2 separate regions of the Homo sapiens genome follow, and region 1 is reported to be linked to region 2. The links are microRNA targets in miRTarBase. Many come from high-throughput screens and were not tested one by one. Region 2 holds a microRNA gene; the other region holds the end of a gene's coding sequence.
What was found. Region 2 holds the annotated microRNA hsa-miR-4707-3p (AGCCCGCCCCAGCCGAGGUUCU, at 1,698-1,719, shown strand). A microRNA usually pairs through its seed, bases 2 to 8, with sites in the 3' UTR of a target mRNA and lowers its output. Matches are read on the target gene's strand: a 7mer-m8 pairs with bases 2 to 8, a 7mer-A1 pairs with bases 2 to 7 and ends in A, and an 8mer does both.

Region 1: miRTarBase lists ZNF7 as a target of hsa-miR-4707-3p. Seed matches in the 3' UTR shown: 8mer at 390-397.

What each region holds. Positions count from the first base shown.
Region 1 is chr8:144,842,969-144,847,286 of GRCh38, forward strand. ZNF7 (zinc finger protein 7) reads left to right here. Exons shown (of 5, transcript NM_003416.4): 5 at 1-804. The coding sequence ends at 200. It also overlaps a transcript of COMMD5 not described here. Among named protein-coding and RNA genes, the nearest start is that of COMMD5, 7.9 kb to the right of the region's middle.
Region 2 is chr14:22,954,318-22,958,675 of GRCh38, reverse strand. MIR4707 (microRNA 4707) reads left to right here and starts at 1,647; the gene lies at 1,647-1,726. It overlaps HAUS4 (HAUS augmin like complex subunit 4), which reads left to right and starts at 1,586. Exons shown (of 10, transcript NM_001166269.2): 1 at 1,586-1,760; 2 at 3,500-3,576. The coding sequence starts at 3,522. PRMT5-DT (PRMT5 divergent transcript) reads right to left here. Exons shown (of 3, transcript NR_110002.1): 3 at 3,984-4,345. RefSeq lists a silencer at 64-424 and enhancers at 224-802, 803-1,382, 1,765-1,894.

The DNA of each region.
Region 1 (4,318 bases), not on the chromosome of region 2:
TTGTGAGCCGTAAAAAGGTTAATACTATAAAGAAACTGCATCAGTGTGAAGACTGTGAGAAGATATTTAGGTGGCGTTCACACCTAATTATACACCAGAGAATTCACACCGGGGAGAAGCCTTATAAATGCAATGACTGTGGCAAAGCTTTTAATCGTAGCTCAAGGCTTACCCAGCATCAAAAAATTCACATGGGATAGACCACTTACATATAAATGTGTATATATGTGAATAAACCTATAGCCTTAACTTACTTATTTTATATGGAATCGTTTATACTGACAAACATGTAGAATGTTGGTAAAGGTTCAGAATTGCTCTCAAGAATATCCAACTTCAGGCCGAGTGTGGTGGCTTATGCCTGTCATCCCAGCACTTTGGGAGGCCAAGGCGGGCACATCACGAGGTCAGGAGGTTGAGACCATCCTGGGTAACAGGTGAAACCCCATCTCTACTAAAAATACAAAAATTTAGCTGGGCGTGGTGGCAGGCACCTGTGGTCCCAGCTGCTCGGGAGGCTGAGGCAGGAGAATGGCATCAGCCCAGGAGGCGGAGCTTGCAGTGAGCTGAGATCGCGCCACTGCACTCCAGCCTGGGTGACAGAGTGAGACTCCCTCTCAAAAAAAAAAAAAAAAAAAAAAATCCAACTTCATACAAAATGTATGTTTATTTCCTGAAATGTTTGACCTTAACCTGTTCAATAAAGCCTGTGTCCCTCAAAATCAGGGTGCAGTCTGCAGTTTTGAGTTGACAGGTCCCTGTGAATGAGGAAGCAGCACAAGGAGGGCTCTACGAGCGCTGCTAGACTGAGTAGGTTAAAATAATTTACCTAAACTCTTTTCCCTTAAGTATCAGTGGCTCACACTGGCTTCAACAATACGGAAATGCATTAGCTCATGTTGGAGGAGGTCCAGGAGTGCCTAGAATTCCAACTTCAAATTAGGTCCTTGTCTTAGAACTTAACCCAGCCACCCAGGACCAGAGGGCCCAGCCCTATCCCCTTCCTCAGAGAGGCAGGCTGGGCTAGCAGGTACACGCCATCATTACTGGTGTGGTTGGCATTTATGGAGCACATACCAGTGCCAGGCACAGAAGCAAGGTGTCACAGCAAGGTTCTGAGGTCACACTTGTGTCCCAGGGGCTTGCTGTGTGACCTAGGACATCATTGCCCTCCCTGAAACTCAGAGCCTTATTTGTGTATCTGAAAACATGCACTGTGAGAGGGTACTGAGAGGAAACAATGTAGAGAAACATGCCTTACTGGGCCTGTCAGAGAACGAGCACTCAAGCAAATGCAAGTACCAACCCCCCCATCCATGCCAGCATCTCCAGCACACCCGTGTGCGCACAGGCCCTGAGGCTGATGACTGTCTTGTACTGGCCTAGTTGCCCCACTTTTTTTTGGTAGGGGGGAACGCGGTGAGGAGGAAATAAAGACAGTGGAGAAAAAGACGAAAATGGGCCGGGCGTGGTGGCTCACGCCTGTAATCCCAGCACTTTGGGAGGTCGAGGTGGGTGGATCATGAGGTCAGGAGATGAAGACCATCCTGGCTAACACAGTGAAACCCCGTGTCTACTAAAAATACAAAAAATTAGCCGGGCGTGGTGGCGGGCACCTGTAGTCTCAGCTACTTGGGAGGCTAGGCAGGAAAATGGTGTGAACCTGGGAGGCAGAGCTTGCAGTGAGCCAAGATCACGCCACTGCACTCCAGCCTGGGTGACAAGAGTGTGACTCTGTATCAAAAAAAAAAAAAAAAAAAAAAAAAAACGAAAATGGGATGGAAAGAAGGTGGTTGGGAAACAAATATGGGGAGAAGAACCTGAGAAGGGGTGATGAGAGGGAGTGGGGAAAGAAGATACTGGGAAGAAAAGATGGTTGAGTGAAGAACTTGGGGTGAGAGTGGGTTAGGAAGAAGGTGGAGAGGGAGTGGGGAAAGAGGACTCTGGGGAGAACTTAGGGAGAGGAAGTGGGGAAAAACGATGGTAGGGAAAAGAACTTGAGCTGCAGTGGGGGTAGACCAGCAGACCACAGGGTGAAAGGACAGATGGGAGGAGAAACAGGGGCAGGGTCAGGGAGGAGAACCCCAATTGCCTTACTTTACAGGGGAGGCCACACAGGTCTGGATGTAATTTATGGTGCGGGACAGCTTTCCTTAAAACTCAGCCTGAAAGACTGCCAAGAACTGAGGGTCTGAGATTTCATTCTTTGTAGAAGCTCACGAGAAATCCTGTGGCCATTCCACCTAGGAGGGGACGGCAGGCAGAATACTCACTGTGGTTGTCAGGGCCCTATCAGTTCCTTTTGCCCACCATTCCCATGACGCAGAGGCCCAGCAGGTGCAGGCACAGCTGAGAAACTCGGAGGTGAGGAGTGAGCCTGCTCTGTTGGGAGCTGGGGGGCCATTACCTCACCCCTCAGTTTTTTTTTTGCTGCTGACACAACCTTGAGAAGTGGCCCAGGTGGAGCACGGTGGGGTTCTTGGCACATGCAGGAACATGGAGGGAGGCGTGGCTGATGGCAGGTGGCTTGCTCAAGGCCTGATGCTTTTTTGCTGAAATTGAATTTTCACGTGAATCTGCTGCTCAACCCTAATCTAACAGGCTGGGACCTTGTCCATTTGATTTTCTCACACAGCATCTAATTAAGGCTGATATTCACAGGCATGAGGCCAACTGTAAGACCTCAACCCTGTCTCCACAGTCCTTGTCATTCAGGGGGAACCTGGAACTCCTGACTGGTGACCTCCCACCTGCCTCTTCAGGGGCTCCTCCCGGTGTACAAGGGTGATGGTGCTCTCCACAGCCATGGAGTCAGTGCATCCACTGTAACTGCCTCTTCTCCAGCCATGCCCTACTCACACCGGAACTTCTGTGCACGTGGAGTATGTGTGCAGTGTCCCTGCCTTGCGTCACGTGGCTGCTGAGAAGGGTCTTGGCAGGTAATGTGCTTAGCCAGGTGGTCACCTTCAGGTCTAGCACAGGGGTTGCTGTTGCTTTTTCTCTACTTCAGGCTTTCTGGGCCGCCCAACCATGGGACAAGAGCCAAGGCACCCACATGCACCGCCTGCAACTCCTGTTCCTGGCCTTCCAAAACACTGCTCACAAAGACTGACCCTGCCTCCTCCTGGGCTCTCGTCATCTCCTCTTGGCCACTTCCTGGTTCATGATCAGGACAGAAGGAGGGGAACGTCAGCCATATGGATGGTCTGAAAATTCCAGATTCTGTGCTAACCATAATGCTGTGTTCTTTTCACTAACAGCAACCAGCCAAAAAGGGGCTGGGGTGCAAGCTTCATTCTGCTTCAGCACCTGGATTCTCTCTGGATTGACATGGTCCTAAGTCAGGGGCTGGCAAACCATTCGTAGCTTTTTACATTTCTGAATGGTTGGGGAGAAAATAAGAGACTTGTGACATTTGAAAACTATGTTAAAATCGAATTTGACTGTGCACAGTGTCCCTGGGCTTGGTGATGCCCAAGCGTCTTCATGGAGCCTCTGGCGGCTTTCTTGCTGCAGCAGTGTTTACCACACCAGCCAAGTCACCTTGAACTTGGAAAATGACTTCATGCCCTCCAGCCACTGAAGGATTATTTTTCCTCTCAGCCCTTAGTGGTTTCTTTACCTAAATGTCACGGTACAACTGAGAATAAGGCAGCTGGGTCAGTTCAATAGAAGTAAACCTAAAGTCCAACAATCCAGGTTAGATATTAGCCACGGAGGGATGGGAGGAGGAGTCTTCTTTTTTTTTGAGACGGAATCTCGCTCTGTCCCTCAGGCTGAAGTGCAGTGGTGCGGTCTCGGCTCACTGCAAGCTCCGCCACCTGGGTTCACGCCATTCTCCTGCCTCAGCCTCCCGAGTAGCTGGGACTACAGGTGCCTGCTACCACGCCCGGCTAATTTTTTTGTATTTTTAATAGAGACGGGGTTTCACTGTGTTAGCCAGCTGGTCTCGATCTTCTGACCTCGTGATCCGCCCGCCTCGGCCTCCCTAAGTGCTGGGATGACAGGCGTGAGCCACCATGCCGAGCTGAGGAGGAGTCCTCTTCTAGCTGCACGATGTGGAAATGACACATCATGTCCATGGGGCAGCTTGCTGAGAGCCAAGGGTGTGAGCACATGACTTAAATTCAAGCTACTGCACAGCTTTGAGATCTGAGTATCACATGGAAGCATCCAGGTGGCCCCTGGCACACAGGCTGGTGGTTCTTTTGTGGAGAGGGAGAGGAAGAGGGGCTGCTCATGGGGTAGTGCAGGTGCTAGAATATCCTGTTAACCTGTTCACACTGCACTGCAATTCGGGCTTCGGTAAGCTCATCTA
Region 2 (4,358 bases):
AATAATTCACCGAAGGTGTGGGTGGGAGTGAGGGTTGGGTTTAAGGTTAAGACAGGTGGGCCGGGCGCGGTGGCTCATGCCTGTAATCCCAGCACTTTGGGAGGCCGAGGCGGGCGGATCACGAGGTCAGGAGACTGAGACCATCCTGGCCAACGTGGTGAAACCCCGTCTCTACTAAAAATACAAAAAAAATTACCTGGGCGTGGTGGCGCCCGCCTGTAGTCCCAGCTACTCAGGAGGCTGAGGCAGGAGAATCGCTTGAACCCGGGAGGTGAAGGTTGCAGAGATCGCGCCACTGCACTCCAGCCTGGCAACAGAGCAAGACTCCGTCTGGAAAAAAAAAAAAAAAAAGATTAAGACAGGTGAAAGATATTTGGCCGGGCAGATTGCTTGAGGTCAGGAGTGCGAGACCATCCTGGCCAATATTGTGAAACTCTGTCTCTACTAAAAATATAAAAATTAGCCAGGCGTGGTGGCTCGTGCGGGTAATCCCAGCTACTCAGGAGGCTAGGGCAGGAGAATCGCTTGAACCTGGGAGGTGGAGGTTGCGGTGAGCCGAGATCGTGCCACTGCGCTCCAGCCTGGGCAACAAGTGCGAAACTCCGTACCCCCAAGAAAACAAACAAACAAACAAACAAAACAGGCGAATGAGGAATGCGCGCTAATAGGGAGTCTGTGGTGGGAATTCGAGAGGAAGGTGACCCTGAGGAAGCACTGTATGGTGCCCGGCATGGGCTGGGCTGGGCTGGGCTGGGCTGGGCGGCAGCGCCTCAGAGCCAGGCCTTAGTGAGGAGACTCGCAGGACGCGGCTTGGGTGGCAGGTCTGGGAAGGTTCCTTCCGAGAGCTATTGGGACAGGTTTAGACCCCCCAAATGGCGACCTCGAACTTAACCCTTTGTGCCTCAGTTCTCCCCCTCTGTAAAATGAGTATAATGGTGACTTTCTCACAGGACGCTTTAAGAACTAAACGAGGCCTGGCCGAGGGCGGTAGCTCACGCCTGTAATCCCAGCACTTTGGGAGGCCGAGGCGGGTGGATCACGAGGTCAGGAGATCCAGATCATCCTGGCTAACACGGTGAAACCCCGTCTCTACTAAAAATACAACAATTAGCCGGGCGTGGTGGCGGGCACCTGTAATCCCAGCTACTCGTGAGGCTGAGGCAGAGAATTGCTTGAACCCGGGAGGCGGAGCTTGCAGCGAGCCGATATTGCGCCACTGCACCCCAGCCTGGGCGACAGAGCGAGACTCCGTCTCAAAAAAAAAACGAGGCAAGGCAAGCAAAATGCTTGGCGTAGTGCCTGACTCATCGTAGGCCCTCAATAAATGTTAGCAATTACCACCATTTTCTCAGCATCTGCCCTTCACTGGGGAGGCACTAATGAGAAGGGGCAAAAAAGCCTTTCCGAGACCATCCTGTTTCCCAGTCCGGGTTCCACCACCCGAGCATGCGAACCCAGGGCGTTGGGAACCCAGCGCGCACCCGTCGAGGGGCGGGGCCTGCCGTTCCCGCCTCGAGTGTGGCCCCGCCTCCACCTCCTTCGTCGCGGCCTCTAGTGCACTTTCGGCTCCTTCCCCTTCCCGGGCCTTTCAGCTTGGTCTTTCCGGGCCTCGCTTCCCCCAGCCCCTGCGCCCGGCCCGAACGAGAGGTTCCGGAGCCCCGGCGCGGGCGGGTTCTGGGGTGTAGACGCTGCTGGCCAGCCCGCCCCAGCCGAGGTTCTCGGCACCGCCTTGAGAGCTTCAGCTGCCCCAGGGTGTGCAGGTTTGCTTTAGAGGGTCGGCGGGCGGAGCTTCGGGGAAGAGGAGCTCTGGGAGAGTCATTCCGGCCAGTGGCCGGAGACCGTCGTCGCTCTTGGGAATCCTTGGCCGCCCAGACAGAAGGGAAGTAGGCGCCGGAGAGCCCGTTCTGCATTTTGATTCATCTCGGGCCCTGTAAGGGTCATATCTTGTGAAAATAACCTGTAAAATCAATTTAACGTTCAGTGCAGCGTGTAAAGACAGCTCTAAGAATTTAAAAGACGCCTGAGTCAGAACATTTAAATGCTTGGGTCCCTGTAGCAGCGTTTTAACACGTCTGAGTGCAGAGGGTGGAGAATCGAGCCTGATTGCCGTTCACGCCCTGTAACCTTTAAGAAGGGTAAAGAAAGGCACCCTAAAAAACGCAAGGGGACACTTACCCTAGGGGGGGACGAACAGCTAGCTTTTTGGAATTTGGGTTGGTCTTCATTTCCAAGTGCGAAATTTGCCTGCAAAACTTTTTATTTGCAGTCATAGATCAACGATAAACAGAATTGTTAAAACACTGAACTTAACTAAGTAGTGGCTTTTGTTGACAAGTCGATTGTGTTATTAATTCTTAATGTCTCATCCAAGGCAGGAATCGTTATCTCAGTTTTGCAGGTGGGAAAAGTTTGGCACAGAAAAAAGCATTTTCCTTAAGTTCTCAGAAGCAACGGCCGGCCGAGCTGCAAATTAAGTCCCAGCATTCTGCCTCCTCAGCTGCGTCCCCCTCTAGACCATGTTAGAAAACAAATGAGTAGTTACTTTGATGTTACTCATAAAACGATCGAGTAAACCAAATGTTCTATAAACATGAAGCGTTAAATCATAATAACCTTCAATGCCTGTTCAGCTTTGGGAGGCTCAGTTGCCCTTTGGAGTTTGATACCTTGCAGAGAGGAGGGGCAGAGCAAAAACATGAAAAGTAATGTCAAGGGAAAATTTTTGTCTCCTGAGGTCAAACTGTGCCCATCTTTACTGCCCCTGTGTTGGTGTCATTCCTTTCAGCGCACTCCATGTTCTGGCAAAACACCCACAGCTCACGTTCTCGTTGTAGCCACATTACACCTTTGCATTACTCTTTTGCCACTGACCTCACTGTCAGTCTTCTTGTCACGCTGTTTCCTCCAGGTGCTCTTTTCTTAGGCTGTTATGTGAAAACCAGTTGTTCAAGTGTGGAATGATTTGTCATTCCTGAAGGATGATTCTAGAGTTAATGATAAAAAAAAAAAAAACTACCAACAGATCTTAGACAAAAAAAGAAGCACAAAAAAACTATTATGGAATTTGATAGCTGAGTTATTTGGGGGGAAAAAGTAGACTTTGATTTTTTTCCCTTTTCCCCCAGTTCACTCATAACTGGGAAGCTGCAGCTCAGTTTTAACTTTGGCATAATGGTGGTGGTGGTGGAGAATCCTCTTGTTTAGACTCAGTGAATTGGAAAGTTCTCTTTTTAGGATGCTCCTTTTGGACAGCTTGGAGCAAGTGGAAACACATGTGTGCTTAGAATGTGACATGTTTTGGCACTTGTAAATCTGTTTGTCCATAAAGCTTGTGTAAGAGCTTGGGACCCAGGATGTGTGGTATAGGCCCTCTGTAAAAGTCATCCTTGAGGTTCCTTTCCAGCTTGTGGACAGCAGAAATTTGAACATAAGGTAGTGTCCTTGGAGCAGCCAGCTGTTTATTCATCTTTTTGTTTTCTTTCACTTCTTGGTTCCACAGATTAGAATCCCAAGAAAATCAAATGGCATCCGGGGATTTCTGCTCACCTGGAGAAGGGATGGAAATACTTCAACAAGGTAAGAGTAGCCACTTGCAAAAGGTTTGATGATTTATCCAGAGAGGTCTTATCCAGGTTCTTGCCTTTTCTAGTAAAAAGCATTTATTGGCTCACACCTGTAATCCCAGCACTTTGGGAGGCTGAGGTGGGTGGATCACGAGGTCAGGAGATCGAGACCATCCTGGCTAACACGGTGAAACCCTGTCTCTACTAAAAATACGAAAAATTAGCTGGGCGTGGTGGTGGGTACCTGTAGTCCCAGCTACTCCAGAGGCTGAGGCAGGAGAATGGTGTGAACCTGGGAGGCGGAGCTTGCAGTGAGCTGAGATCGTGCCACTGTACTCCAGCCTGGGCAACAGAGCAAGACTCCAAAAAAAAAAAAAAAAAAGGATTTATAAGTTTCCCCAGTATGGTTTTCCTCACAGAAGCATGTGTTTCTGAGGAAACTGGAATACATGAAGATCCTTGAACACTCTCTTATTGGAAAACAGACTACACTAATTCCTGTTAATGTTGGTTCAATATCTGCTTGTGTAGTAGGCTAAAAACTCAAGATGCTCCCATGCTGATGTTAGCAAGCATATTATAAAAATAAGGGTAGCCAGCAAATTCCTTGAAGGTGTCCTTCCTACCTGTGTCTTAAATATTCTCATATCTTAGTCTCCAAAATTTCAGATCCTTCTATATCCTGAGTTCTTTCCATATCTCAGATCCTTTCTATATCTTGAATCCTTCAAGAGCTTGCATTTTCTATATCTTGACTATTTCCATATTGGATGCTTCAGTACCTTAGGGAAAAAG